2 linked regions of the Homo sapiens genome follow. The protein of the gene in region 1 purifies or fractionates together with the protein of each later gene. This does not show direct contact. Each region holds a gene or a part of one and is shown on either strand. Other genes may lie near its edges. The genes, in order: FARSB and IARS1.

Region 1 (3,000 bases):
TCACTTCAGAAGAAAAAAAAACCTACAGGGTTTGGTCAGACATAATTCAATTAGACCCTTTGCTGGAGATACTTACTCAACCCACAGTCTAGCTACAATATTCACTCATCCTTTCTGCCTACTAGAAAGCCAAAGCAGAGAATACCTGAACATGAAGTAGACATCGCGGAGACTCAAACCGCTTTGCTTCTGCGTTGCCCTTCTTGCTGCCTGGCCCATTTGTCAAGCACAGTCATTTGACAGCTCTTCTTTTATCTAAGCAGGTCATGTTCCCTACATGGACTCTGGTCAGGGCAAAACACTAGGCACAGCACCTGTCAAGCGGAGGCCCGGACTGGGGTTTGTATTGAGGCATGGTGGAAATCTCTCTTTGATCTTCAGGATACTTCAGTGTCTTTTTATTAGTGGCTAATTAGGAAGGCTAAAATGATCTGTGTTTAGTGTGCACTGTGCATAATTGGCCCCCCTCACAGTGGCACCCATCAGGTTTCCATGTGACAGAGATGCTGCAGACTGGAAGCCTAGGAGGCTTCACTCCTATCTGCGCTCATGGATACAGGTAGATTAGGGAACTGCTACAGACTGTCCCAGAGGTGTACTGCTGCCTTGAATTTTATCATGCATGCCACTCTCTACTTTTTGAATGCAAGTTTTCAATAATGTGTTTTAGTTTGCTGGGACTGTCACAACAAAAGACTATAGGCTGGGTGGCTTCAATAAAAGAATTTTATTTCTCACAGTTCTGGAGGCTAGAATTTCAAGATCAAGGTGCCAGCAAAATAGGTTTCATTCTGATCCCTCTCCTAGCTTGCTGGTGGCCACCATGTTGCTGTGTGGTCATATCACCTCTTCTGTATGTGTGCGCCAGGTAGGCAGAGAAACAGAGCAAGCTCTCTGGTGTTTCTTCTTATCAGGCCACTGAGCCTTTCATGAGGGCCTCCCTCTCATGACCTCATCTAGCTCTAATCACCTGCCAAAGGCCTCATCTCCAAAGACCATCACACTGGAGGTCAGAGGGTCAACATGAATTTGTGGGGATACATTCAGTCCATAATAATATACATAAAGTTATTCAAGGCCCTAATAACATAATAAGCCAGAACTTGGATATCAGATGGGTCAAAGGCTTTCAATGCTTAGGAGGCATATTCTGCTTAAGGCAATGGTGTCCCTTGAAGGCTATCTGTTTGCTTTTGGATAAAATGGACAGAAGGGCCAAAGTAAATACTCAAGTATTAGGGTTAGTGATGTTATATAAAACACCAAGCACAAATAGATTAAGATTGAGAAGCAAGATTGTGAGTAATGTTCTCTCTTACCAAGCTGATGAGCCCATCATTGCTGAGAGCAGGGGCAGTGGTTAGGCTGGCTGGTTTGTAGTAGATTACTCCTGTTTAAAATGTGAGAACAGTCATTCAACATGTTTTAAATTCAAAACACATCCTTTGACCTAGCGACTTCTACATCTAAGATGTAAGGTACTGGAATAATATATAGTTCAAGTACAAACGTCACATCAAAGAAATATCTAATGAACTCTATGCATCTCTGAATGTGTCTGTCAAATGTGGATATTTATACAGTCTTGCACCCATTAGGACTGGTTTTCCTTGGGGTCCTAAGCCAGTGCTATTTAGCAGGATAGGGGGTTCATTGGAGCAGTGTTTATAATTGCAAACAGTTGGAAACAACTGAATGTCCACCAACAAGGGAATAATTGAACAATTACGGACATCTGTACAATAGAATATTACCTCATTTAAAAGAATGAGATAGGTCTATAGGCACTGACCTGAAAAAATGGGGCATATTAAGTGAAATGTCATGAGATATATGTAAAATAAAAAACAAAACTTGTTGCAAACCAGTAAGTAGAGCATGACCCCCAAAAATGTGAGCAGGTGTGTGTGGCTGACTGTACAAATCAAGGAAAATGTCCAAACTAAGGAACAATACAGGCTAAATTGTTAACAGCAGTTAGTTACTTCAGGGAATCAGGAGGAAGAAAGGTAGATTAACTCAGTAAGGCCACAGTTTGCAGAGTTTTTTTAAAGTATTGGACTTAACAATTTTTAACTTTTTGTCTCCCATTATTTTTATATTTTTAAAAAGTGTAGAAAGTCCCATTATTTACTTTCGCATAAATAAGTAAATAATGCAAATCAGTGAGTGGTCTGTGGACTCCAAGTCACTCTTTTATAGTGTCTCAAACTCATTTATTGGCTATGTGACTTCTGAGTAAGTTATTGATCTCTCTGAAACTCAACTGTTTTCACCCTACACATCAGGGAGAATTCCTACTCTCATACCGTTATTAAACCAAAAAAATTAAAATGTGAAAAAAGATCAATTCAAAAATAATTTAAAAACAGAAGAGCAGGCTGGGCGCCTGTAATCCCAGCACTTTGGGAGGCAGAGGTGGACAGATCGCCTGAGGTCAGAAGTTCGAGACCAGCCTAGCTAACGTGGTGAAACCCCGTCTCTACTAAAAATACAAAAATTATCCAGGCATGGTGGCACACACCTGTAGTCCCAGCTACTCGGGAAGCTGAGGCAGGAGAATTGCTTGAACCCAGGAGGTGGAGGTTGCAGTGAGCCAAGATTGTGCCATTGCACTCCAGCCTGGGTGACAGAGCGAGACTCCGTCTAAAAAAACAAAAAACAAACAAAACTAGAAGAGCACTGCAGGACTGTGAGGCTGTAGTGGTAGAATTTAAGTTTTTTCTAAGCTAGAACAAAAATCAATTCCATTTAATTTTCACTTTAATACTAGAGCTCCCAGTTTTTACTAAGAAGGTGTGCATCTTCTGTAATAAAGGCTTTTGGCAGTACTCACAGACTGCCCTGGCTCCAGTTCAAATGCTTCACCAGGGACAAGTGTAAGATGATCTGGCTGCAGAGCCTCGACTCATGAGCTGGATTCGCTTCTTCCAATGCAGCCGACACTGTTTTTCTGCCTACCATTTCCTGCTTCCGAGGGCAGAAACATCTACATGATGC
Region 2 (7,306 bases), on another chromosome or scaffold:
TGGGGTCAAAGTTTATAGTGTCAGTTGTCTTCCTAAACATTTTTATTCCATGATATTTTAAAACATCTTTATTCCATGATGTTTTAAAAACGCATATGTTTTACCTCATCTTCTTTGTGATGATAGAAAACAAATATTTTTTAAAATTTCATTGTTTATTCTTTTCACAGGTGATATTTAAAATCATTATTATAGAAAATGTTAATTTCTATATTTGGTTTTCAGTTGCTTGAAAGTTGCAGAGAAATATTAGAAACCAAAAGTTAGATTTTAAATTCTGACATTAGTACCTGTGGCTATGCATAAAATAGAAATTTTTTTTTTTTTTTTTTTTTTTTTTGTGACAGGGTCTCGCTCTGTCACCCAGGCTGGAGTGCAGTGATGTGATCTTGGCTCACTACAGCCTCCATCTCCTGGGCTCGGGCAATCCTCCCACCTCAGCCTCCCAAGTGGCGGAGATTAGGCATAGTAGTACAGGCTTTTGTAGAGATGGGGTTTTGCCATGTTGCCCGGGCTGGTCTCTAACTCCTGAGCTCAAGTGATCCTCCCACCTCGATCTCCCGAAGTGCTAAGATTACAAGTTTGCGCCACCACACCCAGCTGAAAAATTTTGAAATTAACTACTTCACTTAAAATGAGATTAATTAATGTAGCTAAATATAATGGCAAAACTAAACATTCCGTATTATTTGCTTCAAGCTGTTCTCATTTTCCCATCCGCTACTGTGCCATCACCATCCCTGCCGCATCAGTAATCCTCAGTAGCATGACTGAAGCATGAAGTGTTCTGTTTAACTGATCTTCTGCTTAGTTAATAGTTAACCTTGTGGTACTCTGCAATTGCTTGCACAAAGGTTACCTCTGAGGGATGAGGTTTATATTTCTGGGTCTGGAGTCCTTTTTCTGTTATGCTCAACTGTCTTGATAGATCTTCATAACAAGCATTTTCTTCTTACCATACAAATCACTGGTTTTTAAGCATATTTATAGAATGGTACAACTATCACCATAGTTTTAGAACATTTTCCTCGTCCCAGAAAGAAAGCCAGTATTCATTAACATTCACAAACCATTTTCCCCTCAATATCTGACCATTTCCTGGCATCCACGAACCTATTTGCTATCTCTGGATTTGCCTTCTCTGGACATTTCATATAAGTGGAATCATACAATTTGTAATCTTTATGTCTGGCGTGTTTCACCTAGCATAATGTTTCACATTAATTTATGTTGTAGCACATATGAGTGCTTCAGTCCTTCATATTGCCAAATACTCTATTGCATGTGTATGCTGCATTTTGTTTATCCATTCACAGTTGATGGACACTTGAAGTGTTCTTGCTTTCTGGCAGTTAGGAATAATGCTGCTGTGGACCTACATTTTTGTGTGAACATATGTTTTCATTTCTCATTTTTGTTTCCTCTTGTGCATTAACTGTAGGAACTCAATGTTCGAAAAGTTACACTGTCTACAGATAAAAACAAGTATGGCATTCGGCTAAGGGCAGAACCAGATCACATGGTCCTGGGGAAGCGTCTGAAGGGAGCCTTTAAGGCAGTGATGACGTCCATCAAGCAGTTGAGCAGTGAGGAGCTGGAGCAGTTCCAGAAGACTGGTAGGTGTCTACACAGACAAGGGCACCATTTATGTCCTGAGTCTGAGGGATACTTTTTAGGCTACTGTTTGACTTTTAATATCACATCCTTTCCTTTCCTGTCCTGTCGTGTCCCGTCGTGTCCTGTCCTTTCCTTTCCTTTCCTTACTCTCTTCTCTTTTCTCTCTTCTCTCTTCTCTTTTCTTGACAGAATCTCGCTCTGTCATCCATCCTGGAGCACAGTGGCGCGATCTTGGCTCACTGCAACCTCTGCCTCCCAGGTTCAAGTGATTCTCCTGCCTCAGCCTCCCAAGTAGCTGGGATTACAGGCACGTAGTACCATGCCTGGCTAATTTTTGTATTTTTGGTAGAAACAGGGTTTCACCATGTTGGCCAGGCTGGTCTCTAACTCCTGACCTCAGGTGATCCACCCGCCTTCGGTCCCCCAAATTGCTGGGATTACAGGTGTGTGCCACTGCACCGGTCCATCCTTTTCTTAAGTAAAACTTTTTTTCCTGTTGATAAAAATGTTTATTATAAATAATTCTTACAGTTTAGAAAGAAAATAGCTGGGCACAGAGGCTCACATCTGTAATCCCAGCGGCTCACATCTGTAATCCCAGCATTTTGGGAGGCCCAGTTGGATAGATCACTTGAGATCACTACAGGCACATACTACCACACTTAGCCAGATGTGGTGGTATGTGCCTGCCATCCCAGTTACTCTGGAGGCTGAGGTGGGAGGATCCCTGGAGCCTAGGGTGATTTTGTCCTTACTTTCATGGTGCTTGCTGACATTGAAGATTTGGGAAAATAATTATGGTTTTGATAAGTGTTATAAAGGGAAGGTGTAGGGTAACATAAAAACATGTGGGGGTACCTAACCAAATGATGGGATTAGGAAAGGGAAATCAGCCCCATCTTGCTACCCCTATACAGAGCATTTCAGGGTGCCCAGAAATTTGCAGCTCTGCCATGATTAGAATCATACATGGTCTGAGTGTGGCTGTCTGACATCCTGTAACTATCCTGGGGCACAAGCTGTTTATTGTTACGGCTTCCTCTGAAGTTGAAAATCATAAGCTAGGAGATGTCTTGAGAAGAGAGATTTGAGGATTCATAAATCAGATGGGGGAACTGTCCCTAAGATTCTCCAAATATTTAGATAGAATTAATAAAACATAAGACATCAGCAGCTAAACCTCAAGTTATTACTAATTACTAATCAACTCAAAATATTAAAATAACAAAGTGTTACGAGCCTTCAAGCCACAAATCTAAATTGTTCGCCAGATAGCCAAAGCATCAAAAATTCCTGAGATGGCTGGGGGTGGTGACTCATGCCTGTAATCCCAGCACTTTGGGAGGCCGAGGCGGGCAGATCACGAAATCAGGAGATTGAGACTGTCCTGGCTAACACGGTGAAACCCCGTCTCTGCTAAAAACACACACACACACACAAAATTAGCCAGGTGTGGTGGCAGGCGCCTGTAGTTCCAGCTACTCAGGAGACTGAGGCCGGGGAATGGCGTGAACCCAGGAGGCAGAGCTTGCAGTGAGCCGAGATCCTGCCACTGCACTGCAGCCTGGGTGACAAAGCAAGACTCTGTCTCAAAAAAAAAAAAAAAATTCCTGGGCTAAACCTTATTTGAAATTGAAAGCCTAGTTTCTGAGCGTACTGTTCTGCACTGATGGAAAACAAGATCATCTTCAGAACACAGAGACAAAGTAAACATAAAAATGACACCCGGGTGCTCAGAGCCCAAGAAGGTCATCATCAGTGACAACAGTGGGCCTCCCTATCAGCGGGGGTGTTAACATCAGCAGCTGTTCACATTTCTGCCTCCCCTGAACAGGCATGATGCTCAGTACTACACACTGCCCGTCTCATTTTAGCCTCACCACACCTTGCTCAGCAGGTAGCAGAACACCATGTCATACAACCAGCAAATAGTGGACCTAAGTTCACTTTCTCTTTAAAGACTGTATTTTCTTCATGACATCCTGCTGCTCTGTGTTTATGGTGAGCATTTGTTGCCTCTTGGTGCCTTCCCTTAGCTTTGTCATGTCTTTGGACCTGAGAGTTTATATAAAACAGTAGATACTGGTGATGACTTAACTGTCTTCAAGGTAGCATAGTGTAATCTAAAGAAAGTTTGTCATGTCTTGGCTACAACCATGACATGAGTCAGAGGGAAATGATCTCTTGAAGCCTCTGTGGCTTTGTTATTGTGAAATTTTAATCAAGAAGGGGCATAATACACGGGTAGTGGGGCAGCTTGAAGAGGAGGGGAAGCTGATTAACAGTGTAGCTGCTTCTCCATAGGGACCATTGTTGTGGAAGGCCATGAATTGCACGATGAAGACATCCGCCTCATGTACACCTTTGATCAGGCCACAGGTGGGACTGCGCAATTTGAAGCACACTCAGATGCTCAGGTATTTTTCTGTTTCCTAGAACATTTCTTTACCAAGAGATGAGAGCATAAGAGGAGAAAGTATTTGCCTGTGCCTTTCCTGATAATGTTGACAGCTTGTCTCAGGGTAAAATAAACCAGTTACTTGGTTTAGATTGGCTTTATTAAACTAATATATTATTATGCCCTTAACATATGCATTTGTTTAGTGAATACATAAGTAAGCATTTTGTGATTTCTACATGTCAGTCATTGTCCCAAGTGTGGGGTTGCACAAAAATGAACCCTTCAAGGAATGAGTCAGTCAAGGACACCTGAAATTAAGCCAGTTCTTAGTATTCTACCTGATAAGTTATCTGGTAGAAATAAGTACACAGAGGGCTCCTATCCAAAAATAGGTGTAGGGTGAAAAGTGGTCAGGGAACACTCTTTTCAAGAGAATATACAAACTGTTTTAGATTCCAGGATCAATATTTTTTGCCATATTGGAGAAGAGACTATCTCTTTGCAGTCCTGACCAGACATCCCCAGTCAGCATAGTTGTAAGATCTCGCATGTGGGTTTGGGGATATTGCAGGGGTCCCTCTGTGCTTAGCATACCATGTGCAGGGGAAGGTAGAGCAGCACCTCCATGAAAGGAAGGTCGACCTCCTCAGTCCTTTACCCAGGCGCTTAAGTTAGATGTGTACAGAACTCTACGTGGGAAGACAGTGGCAAGGAGTCGGAGGTATCGTAGCTGGGAAAGAAGGCAGGGAGGAGGTTTCTAAACACTGACAGTGGGCAGTTCTTCCTCATTACAGCAGATGTTAGGGGCCTGAAAAGTTGTCCACCTTACAAAAGTGTCATGTGATGCTTCTGAGTTTCTTGACATGGCTTACATGTTGTAGTGGCCCTGCACTGACTGGAATTTTGAGTTTATCATGCATTTCACTACCTCTGATGCCTTTATGAAGTGAGTCATTTCTTAACTTCTCTGTTTACTCAAAGGTAAATGAGATGATGCCTAATGTACAAGTCTTTTGTAGAGTATATTTTACTCTGCAACATGCTGTGTAACAGAAGCGATAGTGTCATTATTGCTACATCATAATCAGCAACCTTCAGAATAGATGAGATAGAAACATTAACCTTAGCAAAAATATGGCAGTTTAAGTCACAGAAAGTTTTGTGGTCCATTGTAGAATTTGTCTTGAGTCGTTCTGACAAACCTGAAGATCACAGGGGTCATGGTATAGGAAAGTCACTTGGAGTTGACTGCGCTGAGGCCGTTGATCCACTTGTTGTGGCCTGAAAAGCTGTGCTGCTCCAAGGGCTTCATGATTATTGATCTTACTTATTAGAAGAGTTGATATTACTTCTTAGATGGCCAAAAAGCAGAGTCATGTGAGGGACTCTGATAAGAGGTGGTCCCAGGGCATCTCCTGTGAGCAGCACCCTACAAAAAAACAAGAAACAAAAACCTGCACACCTTTCTCCAGAGACAGAGGACTAGCTGATTATGAAGAAGTACCTGAATGATAAACTAGATTAATTTTATTGCTTTTGCTCATTTGTGTGAAAAAATAGTGCTGCATTATAGACTCTCCAGATTTAAATAACATTTTGCTGAGTTGGGAAGAAGTGTTTCTCCTTATTTGATTGTCATGGTGTGCACTGTTCATTCCCACAGGCTTTGGTCCTCTTAGATGTCACTCCTGACCAGTCAATGGTAGATGAAGGAATGGCTCGGGAAGTCATCAATCGCATACAGAAACTTCGCAAAAAGGTTAGTTTGTCAGTTAAGAATAAGCTACTGTTTTGGCTTTTTGTTTGTTTTGGTTGTTTGGAGAAGATAGGAGAGGCAGGTAATATAAACCATAGTGATCAATGCATAACAATCACTAATCCATAGTCCATTTGGAATGTATTCTGCAGAAAAGTCACTCCTCTTCCTCTCCCCACGTGTTCACTCCCAAGTCGTAGCTTTCAGCCAGCCTGTGCCTTTTCCCATCCTTTTTTTTAGCTCCGTTGGGCTTCTACAGAATATCCCCTGTGACTGGAGCAGAAGGTAATCAGAGCTGATAGTGTCTTTGCAGAAGGGCAGAGGTGCAGTCAGCATAGACAGGCTTCTAGCTTAGGGGAGATTCCCGGATTTGGACAGAGTTGGGTAGTTTTTCCTTATTAGAGAGCTGAGGAATATGCAGGGAGCTCATCCTGGAGCGCAGAGGGGCTGCAAAGCCCCTGCTAGTGAGAGAATCAGGAATTTCTTGCCCTGTAGAGGGCAGTGACAGCTAACATACATCTTTCTTCCCAGACGGTTCAAGGTCTGAGGAGGCTGTTCCAGCAGATGAGTGGGTGCTTGTGACCTCTGAATCAGTTCAGAGCTTTGTAAGTGGGTTCTAAGTAATTTCTTGGTTTCAACATTCATGAGGTACTGATTGTTCTAGGAAAAGAAACATGCCCTATCCCCCAAAGAGTGGTGAAAAAGACACAAAGTTAATCATGTACTGAGTGCAGTTAGTCTTACGGATCACCCAGCAGGGAGGGAAGGGTGACTGCCCTTCTGTGATGATTCAGCATGGGATCTGTAGCCCTTGTTCAACAGTACCTTCCTTCAGTTCTGATTAATAGAATGTACTTCCCTTTTAAATTTTTCTGTGTGTGTTTTCAGTGCAATCTGGTTCCAACTGATGAAATCACAGTGTACTATAAAGCAAAGTCTGAAGGAACATATCTGAATAGTGTTATTGAAAGCCACACAGAGTTCATATTTACCACCATAAAGGCTCCCTTGAAACCATATCCAGTTTCTCCATCGGATAAAGTCCTTATTCAAGAAAAAACACAGGTGAGTCCTGAGTTCCACTGAACTACTACTAAAGGGTTTCAGATTAGGTTTGACTTTGTGTACTCACGTGTTGATATTCTGTCCCACAGTAGAGATCGGCACAGCACTCTGTCTTGAAGTATTGCTCTGGACAGTAGTGGGTAGAGTCAGAGAGTGGAAGCTCAGAAAAGATGGAGCAGGGAGGGAAGATGGAACTGTTTTCACAACAGTTCTCTTGAGGAAGGTAGCCAGGAGGGTACATGAGCTTTGCCCGGAAATAAAATGGCCTGTTTTTTCTAAAACTAGAAAAGGCAGTGTGTGGATTCTGGTAATTATCATTAAAAGTAAATAGCAATTGGCTTGAAAAACATTTAACTCTTCTGGTAGTGGGTTCTCCATAAAAGTACAGTACAAAAAAAGAAAGATTACAATAGCATTTCTGTTGTTACATCTAGGAATTTTAGATATACTTATGAAAGTATGATATT

What was found.
Region 2: the proteins of FARSB (region 1) and IARS1 fractionate together in Homo sapiens (co-fractionation; 2 studies listed by BioGRID). This does not show direct contact.

The regions. Positions count from the first base shown.
Region 1 is NC_000002.12:222,566,191-222,569,190, forward strand, and holds the end of FARSB (phenylalanine--tRNA ligase beta subunit), read right to left. Parts: 3' UTR 709-3,000; downstream 1-708.
Region 2 is NC_000009.12:92,241,687-92,248,992, reverse strand, and holds part of IARS1 (isoleucine--tRNA ligase, cytoplasmic), read left to right. Parts: intron 1-1,441; coding exon 1,442-1,616; intron 1,617-3,921; coding exon 3,922-4,034; intron 4,035-5,681; coding exon 5,682-5,777; intron 5,778-6,662; coding exon 6,663-6,839; intron 6,840-7,306. UniProt on the Homo sapiens protein: Catalyzes the specific attachment of an amino acid to its cognate tRNA in a 2 step reaction: the amino acid (AA) is first activated by ATP to form AA-AMP and then transferred to the acceptor end of the tRNA.